2 separate regions of the Homo sapiens genome follow, and region 2 is linked to region 1. Evidence: fine-mapped expression QTL. Tissue or cell type: tibial artery. Region 1 holds a variant in brackets; the other region holds the start of a gene. All regions are shown on one strand. Distances are between the middles of the regions.

The links. PIP is the estimated chance that this variant, and not a neighbour inherited with it, causes the effect. A credible set is the group of variants that fine-mapping cannot tell apart.
Region 2: it holds the start of MAPK10, and the variant in region 1 is the best candidate, but not a certain one, in a credible set for the expression of MAPK10 in tibial artery (GTEx, PIP 0.86).

Annotation. Positions count from the first base shown.
Region 1 is chr4:86,460,761-86,467,012 of GRCh38, forward strand. It overlaps a transcript of MAPK10 not described here. Among named protein-coding and RNA genes, the nearest start is that of MIR4452, 79 kb to the right of the region's middle. The variant G/A (reference allele first, on the strand shown) is at 3,514.
Region 2 is chr4:86,357,126-86,363,377 of GRCh38, forward strand. It overlaps MAPK10 (mitogen-activated protein kinase 10), which reads right to left and starts at 2,928. Exons shown (of 14, transcript NM_138982.4): 1 at 2,533-2,928.

The sequences.
Region 1 (6,252 bases):
GCAGTTAACTAGCCAGAGCCCATCTCTTTATTTTGGCCCATCTCTTTGTTTCCGGTAAGGAATACTTTTAGTTAATCTATAATCTATAGAAACAATGCTTATCACTGGCTTACTGTCAATAAATATGTGGGTAAATCTCTGTTCAGGGCTCTCAGCTCTGAAGGCTGTGAGACCCCTGAATTCCCTCTCCACATGCTATATTTCTGTGTGTGTGTCTTTAATTCCTCTAGCACCACTGGGTTAGGGTCTCCATGACCGAGCTGGTCTCAGCAAATGATGCCCATACGTGGGGCTCAAACCCAGGTCGAAGGGTCATTGGAGTGATGGTTGGAGAACGTGGAACTAAGCTGGAGGACACCTGAGTACTCTTTTTTTTTTTTGAAATATTTAAAGAGGTTTATTCTGAGCCAAATATGAGTGACCAAGGCCTGTGACAAAGCCCAAGGAGTTCCTGAGAAACTGTGCCCAAGGCGGTTGGTTTACAGCTTGGTTTTATACATTTGAGGAGGACAGAAGTTACAGGCAGACATCAATCCAGAAAGGCGGGACAACTTGAAGTGGATGGGGAAGGCACAGGGTCTGGAGGGGCTCCAAGTCACAGGTGGAGTCAAAGATTTTCTGATTGGCAGTTAGTTGAAATCATTAAGTTATTATCTAAAGACCTGGAATCAAGGCCGGGTGTGGTGGCTCACACCTGTAATTCCAGCACTTTGGGAGGCCAAGGTGGGTGGATCACTTCACCTGAGTATCTTAAGCAATCCCCATGGTGAGTAAGAAGGGGAGCTTGGAAGCATCAGGGTAACAATGGGACAACTGTGGGCTCTGGTTCATTCCATCTTGGAACCTTTTCACACTGATGATGAGGAGGAAGGAGAGTATAATGAAGTAACAGAAGAAGTAACAGAGCAGATTTGTTTGCCAGCTAAAGCTAAAGCGGCAAAGGAGGAAGAGGTTCATCCCTACCCTTCTGCATCCCCTCATTATTTTGAAGAAAAAGAGTGGCCTGACCCTCCAGATCTTTCTTTTCTGGAGGACACTGGGCAAAAAGTAGTTGCCCCAGTAACTGTTCGAGCAGCACCTTGAGTGACCACTCTCAGTTCTATTCAGGCAGGAATTCAGCAAGCTAAACGAAAGGATGATTTAGAGGCTTGGCAGTTCCCTGTTAGCATACACCCCCCAAATCAACAGGGAAATATAGCTACATTTGAGCCTTTTCCTTTTAAATTCAGGAAATGCCATGCAGGGCCCATCCTGGGCCCCGTTCCAAACTGGGGCATTTCCAGCTCAGGCCACTCCCTCACCCCTATACAATATTTGTCCCCCGCCACAGCGCCACAGCCAGTAGTACTGCAGTAGATTGATACTGCACAAAAGCTATGAGTCTTCTGCCTAGGGAACCCCCACAAAAGGTCCCAACAGGAGTCTGTGGACCCTTGCCAGCGGGGATGATAGGATTACTTCTAGGAAGGTCTAGTTTAAATTTAAAAGGGGTACAAGTACAAAGAGGAGTCATTGATTCACATTACAATGGGGATATTCAAATTGTTATATCTACTTCCGTTCCCTGGAAAACAGAGCCAGGAGAGCCTATAACACAGCTCCTGATTGTGCTGTATGTGGAAATGGGGAAAAGTGAAATTAAATGAACAGGAGGATTTGGAAGCACAAATCAATAAGGCAAAGCGGCTTATTGGGTGAATCAAATTCCTGATAAACATCCTACCTGTGAAATAACTATTCAAGGAAAGAAATTTGAAGGTTTGGTAGATACAGAAGCAGACATTTCAATCACTTCTCTACAGCACCAGCCGTCCACGTGGCCAATTCAACCCGCTCAATTTAATGTAGCTGGAGTTGGTAAAGCCCTTGAAGTATATCAAAGTAGTTATATTTTGCACTGTGAAGGGCCTGATGGACAACCTGGGAATATTCAACCAATTATAACTTCTGTACCTATAAATTTATGGGGAAGAGATTTATTACAACAATGGGGAGCACAAGTTCTAATTCTAGAACAGTTATATAGCCCTCAAAGTCAACATATGATGCATGAAATGGAATATGTCCCTGGTATGGGACTAGGAAAAAATTTGCAAGGTTTGAAGGAACTGCTTCAAGCAGAAAGACAAAGTTCCTGCCAAGGTTGAGGATATCATTTTTGATGGCAGCCATTGTTAAGCCTCCAGAATCTATACCTTTAAAATGGTTAACAGATAAGCCAATTTGGATAGAACAATGGCCACTAAGTAAAGAGAAACTGGAGACTTTGAAGGAATTAGTTAATGAACAATTAGAAAAAGGACACATAGCTCCAATATTTTCCCCTTGGAATTCTCCAGTTTTCGCAATTAAGAAAAAATCAGGTAAATGGAGAATGTTAACTGATTCAAGAGGCATTAATTCAGTTATACAACCTATGGGGACATTACAGCCAGAATTGCCTTCTCCTTCTATGATTACAAAAAATTGGCCTTTAATAGTCATGGATGTAAAAGATTGTTTCTTTACTATCCACTTAGCTGAGCAAGACTGTGAATGGTTTGCATTTACAATTCCTGCAGTAAACAACCTGCAGCCTGCTAAGTGTTATCATTGGAAAGTGTTGCCATAAGGCATATTAAACAGTTCAACAATTTGCCAGACTTATGTAGGGCAAGCAATTGAACCTACTCGTAAAAAATTTTCACAGTGTTACATTATTCATTATATGGATGATATACTTTGTGCTGCCTCCACTCAAGAAATATTACTCCAATGTTATGATCACTTGCAAAATTCAATTTCTCGTGCTGGCTTAATTATAGCTCCTGACAAAATTCAGACTGCTACTCCTTACTCCTACTTGGGGACCTTAGTAAATGATATTACCATTGTGCCACACAAAGTAGCCATATGTAGGGATCAATTGGAAACATTAAATGACTTTCAAAAATTACTAGGGGACATTAATTGGATATGACCTGCTCTAGGCATTCCTACCTATGCCATGAGTAATCTATTTTCTATCCTTAGAGGAGATCCTAGTCTCCCTAGCCTTGGCAATTAACAAAAGAAGCTCAGGCAGAGCTGCAGCTAATCAAAAAGCAAGTCCATAAAGCTCAAATAAATTGAATAGATCCAGAGAAGACTCTAGATTTGCTAATTTTTCCAACTCAGCATTCACCTACTAGTATTATTGTTCAAGAGCAAGATCTTGTAGAGTGGCTTTTTCTTCCACATACTAATTCACAGACTCTAACTCTTTATTTGGATCAAACCGTGACTATGATAGGAAATGGGAGAACTCAGATTGTTAAATTACATGGATATGATCCTGGAAAAATTATTGTCCCTCATGAAGGCACAAATACAGCAAGCTTTTATAAATAGTCTTACTCATTAAACCCATTTAGCTGACTTTGTGGGTATTCTCGATAACCATTTTCTTAAAACGAAACTGTTTCCATTTTTGAAATTAACTAATTGGATTTTCCCTAAAATAACTAATTTAAACCAATTGAAGGTGCTAAGAAT[G/A]TTTTTACAGATGGGTCTAGTAATGGTAAAGCTTCTTATTCTGGATCAAAAGGTAAAGTTTTCCAAATGCTCTATACTTCAGCTTAGCTGTAATTGAGGTATTCACTGCTTTTGATATGCCTATTAATGTGATTTCTGATTCTTCACACGTGGTTCATTCCACACAATTAATTGAAAATGCTCAGTTATGATTTCATACAGATGAACAACTGATGACTTTCTTTACTCAATTGCAAACAGCAGTTAAGAGTAGAATGCACCCTTTTTGCTGGGTGCAGTGGCTCATGCCTGTAATCCCAGCACTTTCGGATGCTGAGGCAGGCAGATCACGAGGTCAGGAGATCAAGACCATCCTGGCTAACACGGCGAAACCCCGTCTCTACTAAAGTACAAAAAATTAGCCAGGCATGGTGGCGGGCACCTCTAGTCCCAGCTCCTCAGGAGGCTGAGGCAGGAGAGTGGCGTGAACCCAGGAGGTGGCGCTTGCAGTGAGCCGAGATCATACCACTGCACTCCAGGCTGGGCAACAGAGCGAGACTCTGTCTCAAAAAAAAAAAAAGAATGCACCCTTTTTACATCACTCACATTAGGGCTCATACACCTCTTCCGGGACTTTTGACTGCAGGGAATCAAATGGCTAATCGCCTAGTTGCTAATGCAATATCTAATGCTAGACACTTTCACAATTTAACACACGTTAATGTCTCTGGTCTCAAACACAGATACAGCATTATCTGGAAAGAAGCTAAAGCTATTATCCAGCGATGCCCAACTTGTGAAATGGTACATTCCTCATCTTTTACAGGAGGAGTTAATCCTCGAGGATTGGAACCTAACTCTCTTTGGCAAATGGATGTCACACATGTTCCCTTGTTTGGGAGACTAGCTTATGTACATGTATGTGTGGACACCTTTTCTCACTTTGTCTGGACTACATGCCAATCAGGAGAGTCTTCTGCCTGTGTTAAATGTCACCTTTTGCAGTGTTTGGTGGTGATGGGCATTCCAGCTTCTATTAAAACAGATAATGCCCCAGACTATACTAGCCAAGCTCTAGCTACATTTTTCTCTGTATAGAATATTAAACACATTCCTGGTATCACATATAATTCTCAAGGGCAAGCCATAGTGGAAAGAATGAATCTCTCCCTGAAACAGCAGTTACAAAAACAAAAAAGGGGGAGAAATAGTGACTATGGGACATCCCAAATGCAACTGAATCTAGCATTAATAATTTTAAATTTTTTGAGCCTGCCGAAAGGCAAGATGCTATCAGAAGCTGAACAGCATCTACAGAAACCAGCTGCAAAGACAGAGGCAGAACAACTCATTTGGTGGAGAGATCCGATAACAAAAAGTTGGGAAATAGGTAAAATAATAACTTGGGGTAGAGGTTATGCTTGTGTTTCTCCAGGACCAAATCAACAGCCAATTTGGATATCATCAGGACACCTGAAACCTTATCATGAGCCAGATGCCGAGGAAGAGATTCCGGGAGGATCCTGAGGACCCCCCAGTTACAGCCATGTTGAGACTGACACTGAGAAGGACCCCAGCTGTCACGAGCAGCACCTGTCGAACACAGCCACCTACCTGGGGACAGATCAAGAAGCTGTCACAGATGGCGGAAGAAAACCTGAGGAAAGCGGGACAACCAGTCACAATGAGTAACTTAATGGTAGCTATGATAGCGGTGATCACCATTGCCATGAGTATTCCTTCAACAAGGGCTGACACAGAGAATAATTATACTTATTGGGCATATTTATCAATCTTGGCTGGCAATAATGCCTGGATGTAATCACTTTATGACAGTTACACATGCTTTCTGGTCTCAGTATTTACCATAATAAATCTACTCCTATAATTGAGGCATACCGCCCTCAAAAACTTATTTGTAAACAGGATTGGACCCAGTTAGAAATAATGAATGTACTTGTTTGGGAAGATTGAATTGCAGAACAGGCAGAGGTGCTGTGCAACGATTCCTATGGAATCATTATTGATTGGTCCCCTAAGGGGACATTTAGCTTAAATAGCACCTCTCAGTCTGCATGCCACGGCCACACTATGTTCAGCTGGTCTGAACAAAATGGTCAGATGGTAGAAATGGTAGGAAGTACAGCAAGAGTTCCTATTATCTGGAAACATAGCAGTATAGTGACACCTCAACCTCAAATGATATGGCCCGTTGTAGGCCACATGCTATATTTCTGTGTGTGTGTCTTTAATTTCTCTAGTGCCACTGGGTTAGGGTCTCCACAACCGAGCTTGTCTTGGCAGTGTAATTGATTAACTAAAAAAATAATAAAATTAGATCTCTATCTCATACCATACCCAAATATAGATTCCAGATAGGTCAAAAATACAAATGTAAAAATCAAGTCTTTCACAGAACATGTAGGAGAATCTTTTTTATGGCATTTGGTTAGGGAATTATTTCTTAAGCACAGCATGAAAAGCACACAGAACAAAAGAGGGTTTGGGACACCTAGTGTGGTTGATTGTACCCCTGTGAAAATATTTGCTGCCCCTCCCTCCCAGGCTAACCTGCGGGAGATTATATGCCCTCAGCCAAGGTCACTTGCTTCAGCAACAAAATGTGACTATAATGTGATATTGAAACAGAAGCTTTAAAAGCCCTCCTGTGGGTCTGTTGTCTCTCTTTTCTGTCACAAGACCACCATGTCCAAGATATGTGCTGCATCTTCAGCTGCAGTCCCTGGAGTGAAGATGATG
Region 2 (6,252 bases), 100 kb before region 1:
AAGGAAGTCTCTCTTGCTTTGAGTCCTTTATTCTGATAAGCAACCAAGCAATCATTCGATTTGAACACACCAATTCCACTGAAAGTCCTTTGGCTACAAATGTGACCTGAGGCCAGAACTAGAGCATGAAGGGAGAACATCTATCCCCATATTTAACAAACAAGTAAATACCCAATTTGTCTTTAGCTTTTAGTATCAGTATAAAAAGAATTTATAACTAGGCTTACATCCAAAGAAACAGATTCATTTACATGAAACCACAATAAAACCTTAAAAATATATTTATGCCTTTAAACATGGGAGGTTTTTCTAGATTACTTAGGTTGGGCAAATTTGTTTTGCTTATGATGTTCCTGTAGGATATCCTAACAAGGAAAATCTTATTAATTTTCCTATAAATTTAAAATATCTACATTTTATAGCATTGACAATAAATTATCAGTTCATTCTAACCTTAGAATATATAGACCATGTACTATGAAACCATTAAATACTAATAGCTGCAGACATACCAGACAATGACAGCAAAAACACACTCAGCCCCTCTGGGATCTGTTCATAAACATCCCCTTCCAGCATGGCAAACACACTCCTCTCAACAGCAGATGCTGTTCTGGGGCTAGCAGGCAGGAAGCTGGAGGCAGCTGATTTTCCCACTCTACATATAATTTCTTACTGCCTCACTATCCAGAATCGTTTTACTGAAACTGTGAGGATTTTTTAAGAACAGGAGCCCCTCAAATTAAAGACACTTTGCAACAGCAGAGGAATGACAGGCAAATGAGGAAGCATGAAGACTCTCTAATATTTAAGGTCACACCACCTTTGTCATCTGATTTTCTAGTCCCATTGTAGGGGAGAGAAAACCCAGTTTGCTCCACATAAGAAAATAAGCTAATCCAATACTTTATGTCAATTTTAAGAGTGTGATCAAGGTAGAGAAGGAAATACATACCAGAGGCAGCCAAACCGCTACATCCAAAGCATCCAGCCCCTAAAATCTAATGGTTCTGAAGTGGAGTCAGAAGCTTGTGATATACTTATATATTTATTTGTTATATATTTGTAACATATATGCTCACCTAAAGTAGAAAATTCACAGAAGCTTCTCTGAGAGAAATGGTCCTTACTGCAACTATTTTAAATATGTTGATAAGCATTCTGTGTTATCTTCCAGGGTCCGACAACTAGCCGATGAGGGATAGAAGGAGATATTGGATGTTGTGCTGGCAATGCCTGGTGCACTTACACTCGTTTTCCTTCCACCTGAACTGTAGTCTATCCCATATGACTTAGCCTGCTTCCTTGCAGTTTGTTCATAAAAGTTATCATCAACATGGCCAGAAGCAGGCAGGGCTGCTGTACAGACACTGTCAGGCTCTGCACCAAAGGCAGCCCATGTAAACAACCTTGTGATTGCTTCAGAGCCTACTGCTGTGGCATAAGCCATTCTTTTTCTGTGGCTAAATTGCAGTACCCTGGGAAGTTATCTGTTTAAGGGGGTAAAAGCAGAGACTAGGTCTCTAGATTTAAATGTTTGGGGAGGGTGAGAAAAATATATGGATAGATAGTTTTCTTGTAATATCTATAGCCTGATTTACTTACAGATTTTCCAGTAAATTACATTTATTTTGTTGAAGGCACAAATACATAGATTCTAACAAATATACTGCCATACTTATTTCTGATTTTTTTTTCAAAAGAGCTCTGACATTTGCAGGGGACACAGTATCCCAGCACAGAATACCTGGGAATCTTGCCATGAAAAAAAGAAAGCTGACTGCTGTGACTAGGAGATCACTTTCTTAAAGGGACCCCTTACCTATTTGACTGCAGTGCCAATGTTTCCTCTTATCTCTAACCTGACCCCTGTTCTGTGTTCCTCTCCCCGGCTCAGATTTAGCCTAGAGTTGCTCTGCAAGAGTAACGCCAATAGTTTTATATCTAATATATATATAAATACTGTTCCTTAGTAAAATACATCTTAAAATATTTAAATTATACTTCTCACAAAAGTAAACATAAATACATACTAAAAGACATTATTTTTAATGTTTTATGGAACCCATCACATTTTTCAGATATGGAACTAAGGTCAGCACTTCTAACAAGCACAGCTGTTTGGTGTTTTTTTTTTCCTCTCTCTCTCTCTCTCTCTCTCTCTGTGTGTGTGTGTGTGTGTGTGTGTGTGTGTGTGTGTGTGTGTTTCTCTCTCTCTCCCTTCCCTTCTGTAGCCCTGCATTGGTCTAAAAACCCCTGGTCACAATAAGAATGCTCCCTCCCTCCCTCTGCTACCCCTCACTCCAAATGGAAAGGTTTCAACACGCCCAAGTCTGGAAAGAGATGTTCTGCACAGAGGGAAAAACTGGTAGCTTCTTGCTTCAAAGCTAGTTCACTTGATTAACCTGCTTTCCACCCCACCTCTCTCGTCTCTTCCATACTCCCTCTCCCGCCCCACCAGGAGCAATCAATAGACATCACCCCACCCTCCAAAAACAGGTTAGAACCCAGAACGAGCAAAGAGCCACCTACCATTCCGTGCCTGAGAACTACGATCCTGATCCGGCAGTGTTTGCCCCAGAAATCCTCCCTACTTGTTTTTCATTAACCACATTCCAGACTAACATGGAAGAGATTCTTTGGAGATATGGAGATTGTTTAAAATTAACGATGGACAGGTGATTTCCAAGAAAACCCAATCTTAAACTCACTCAAGCCCCTAGGAATTGAGGGGTGAGGACAAAAAAGGAAATTTGTAAAAATGAAAAAAGAAAAGAAAAAGGTAAGCATATAGCAAGCACCACCCACCCCCATAAAAATAAAAAGTGAAGGGGAGGTTAAAGAAAATAGAAGAAGAGTGGCTTGCTGAATCACCCTCTTTCACTGCCTGGAAACCATTGTGCAGCGTGATGCTGCCTGTACCATTGTGGAACCTACCAGAGGAGACGGACAGAGGGCTTGGGGAATGGGGTTGCTATGGCAACCGAAAGGAGCACACATGACGTCAAAGCCCAGAGAGGTCTAGGGAGGGGGATGAGGGGGAAACAGAAAGAGGAAGCGTCTATGTGCAGCTACAGCTACTGTGTTTTCCGGTGAAATGAGGACCAGGCAAATGTAAAGGAATAAGGTTCGTCGGCAGCCAACATCAGCAACTACGACATCAAGGCAGCCAGCCTGCACAACCTGAAGAAAAGATCCATTCGATGCAGTTCTGGCCCTTTGCACAGCAGCACGGAGGAGCAAATACCAGCAGAGCAAAACACCACTGGAAATGCAACCTCTGCTTTTCAACTATCTCTTGTAGTATCTCTAAACGTCAAACAAGTAAGAGATGGTAATAACCTCAGAGGAGAAGCAGGCATTTGAGTGTCGCCTGAACCCCGAGGTCATCTGCACAGCACTATTCCTCTTCTCTGTTTCCTTGTTTTTGTAAAAATCCTGAATAAATATCCACTAAACCAAATTCAACAGACTAATACTTAGGTTGCAATCTGAGTGTACAAAGAAAATACTGATTAATTTGAGTTAACACATCAGAATTCTTTTTTTTTTAATTGCAGATAATTTTCTAGAGAACTGATGAAAATTGTACTGTTACTATTTGGGGCAAATATCGCAATTTTATTTCAGTAATTTGCTCTGCCTTTAACTGTTATAGGGTATTTTTAAAGTCTCCAAACAGTTTTACTATCCATAAATAATAGTTTCTTAGAATGACAACAGTTGACTACTTGCACTATAAAAAAAAATTAGGTTTACCAAATTTGTTTTACCTTTTTTATGTAAGAAAAATTTTCAATACAAATTTCGCTTAAACCAACTCCAGCCTTTGGACTTCTCAAATTACGTAATCTAATTCAATTCCTTTTTTGCTTACACTCTTTTGAGGTGGGTTTCTGTTTATTGCTACCAAGTAGTGCTGAGTTGTAAATGATTCCACATTATGTTTTAGAACTAGCATACTTATATGAATATGAAGCTTCTTCCATATGTTACCAGAAAGATACAACATGCAAGAGATGCAAACTCAGCAGTACTGTAGACACTGAAACACATCATAAAGCTGTAAGAAACGCATACGTTTTTGTTGTCTTTGTTGTTGCTGCTGTTGTTTTATTTGGGGAGAAAATTTAGAAAAAGGAAGGCTTGAGTGAGTTGTATGTCATTGTAGTTCATTGGATAAGTGTTTGGATGTCCCTTTACTCTAATTTCAATTTCAACAAGAATCAATCAAGACTATCTTCTAGTCTTCTCAATGGGCCTACCTGCAAGATAACTACCTCATGCAAAAATATGGATTGATAGCCAAACAACTTTATAACACAAAATAATTGGCATTCTGGCTTTTGAGGTATTATATACTAAGTTTGGACATCAAAAGTCAGTTCCCCAATCCCATGGAAATTAAATCAGTTTGTCGAAGAGATGTCTGCATTCCCATATTTATTGCAGCACTATTCTAATAGCCATGGAAACAACTTAAGTGTCCATCAACAGATGAATGTATATATATTATGCATACCACACACAAACACACATACACACACACACACACATGCTGGAATACTATTCAGACTTATAAGAACAGGAAATTCTGTCATTTGCAACAACATAGATGAACCTAGAGGACATTATGCTAAGTGAAATAAGCCAGGCACAGTGAGACAAATACCATATAATCTCACTTATATGTGAAATTTTAAAAAGGACAAACTTGTAAAACTAGAAAGTAGAATGGTGGTTACCAGTGGCTGGAGGACGGAAAGGTGGACAGGGAAAGGGGGGACATTGGTTAATAGGTACAAAGTTTCAGTTAGAAAGGAGAAATAAGCTCTGGTGTACTATTGCACAGCACAGTGACTATAGTTAATAATAATGTTGCCTATTTCAAAATAGCTAAAAGAGAGGATTTCAAAAGTTCTTACTACAAAGAAATGATAAATATTTGAGGTGACAGATAATGAGCCTGATTTGATCATTCTACAATGTATACATGTATCAAAACATCACATTATACCCCATAAATATATACAATTATTGTCAATTACAAATAAAATAAAACAATTTTTTAAAAGTGAATGTCCAGTAACGTAACATGAATGAGGAAAAAAGGAACGCCATCTCTTACCTTACATTGTGAACACAAATATTTATTCAAGATGAATTGTACACCTCAACATAAAAGCTAAAATATATAACACTATTAAAATATAATATAACTTTTTTTAAAGATGGCTTTCTGACCTTGCAGTAGGCAAAGATTTCTTAGGATACAGAAAGCACTTACCATAAAAAAAAAAAAGAGACTTCATCAAAATTAAAAGCTTCCACTTATCCTAAGTCACCATTAAGAAAATGAATAGGCAAGCCAGAGTCTAGATGATACATATATCTGAATACTCTTGATAGCTGAAAATATTCTGATACACACAAATCCTAGATTATAGAAAACATGTCCTACAATTCAATAATAAACATGAACAAACAATTTTGTTTAATGGGCAAAAGACTCTGACAGGCATTTGACAAAGGAAAATTTATAAATGGCCAATAAGCATATGAAAAAGTATTATATATCATTAGTCAGCAGAAATATACAAATTAAAACCAAAGTGAGATACCATTTCATGCCCACAAAAGTGACTAAAATTAAAAAGACTAACATCATCACATATTGACAAGGACATGGAAAACCAGAACTCTCCTACATATATTGGTAGGAGTACAAAATGTTAAAACTACCTTGGGAAATTTTGGTAGTTTTTATAATTATAAACCTACACCCAAAGTATGGCTCAACACTCCTATTTATAAGGATTCACCCAAGACAATGGAAACCTACGTCTACCAAAAAAAAGTTGGACATAAATGTTTATGCTAGCTTTGCTTATAATAAGCAAAAGCAGGAACAACTCCAAATATATCAACTAGACAGCAGATAATTATGATATACAGTCAGCCCTCCATGTTCATGGGTTCCACATCTGTAGATTCAAAAACTGAAGATCAAAAATATTAGGGGAAAAAGAATAAAAGATAACACACAGAGATAAATAAATACAAATAGAAGTACACTATAACAACTGCTTACATAGCATTTACTTTGTACTAGTTATTATAAATAATTTATAGATGATTTAAAATAATAGGAGGATGGAACACTATGCCATTTTATATAAGGGACTTGAGCATCCACTGCTTTTGGTATGGAGAGGTTGTTCCTGGAACCAATCCCCCTGAGAGTACTGAGGG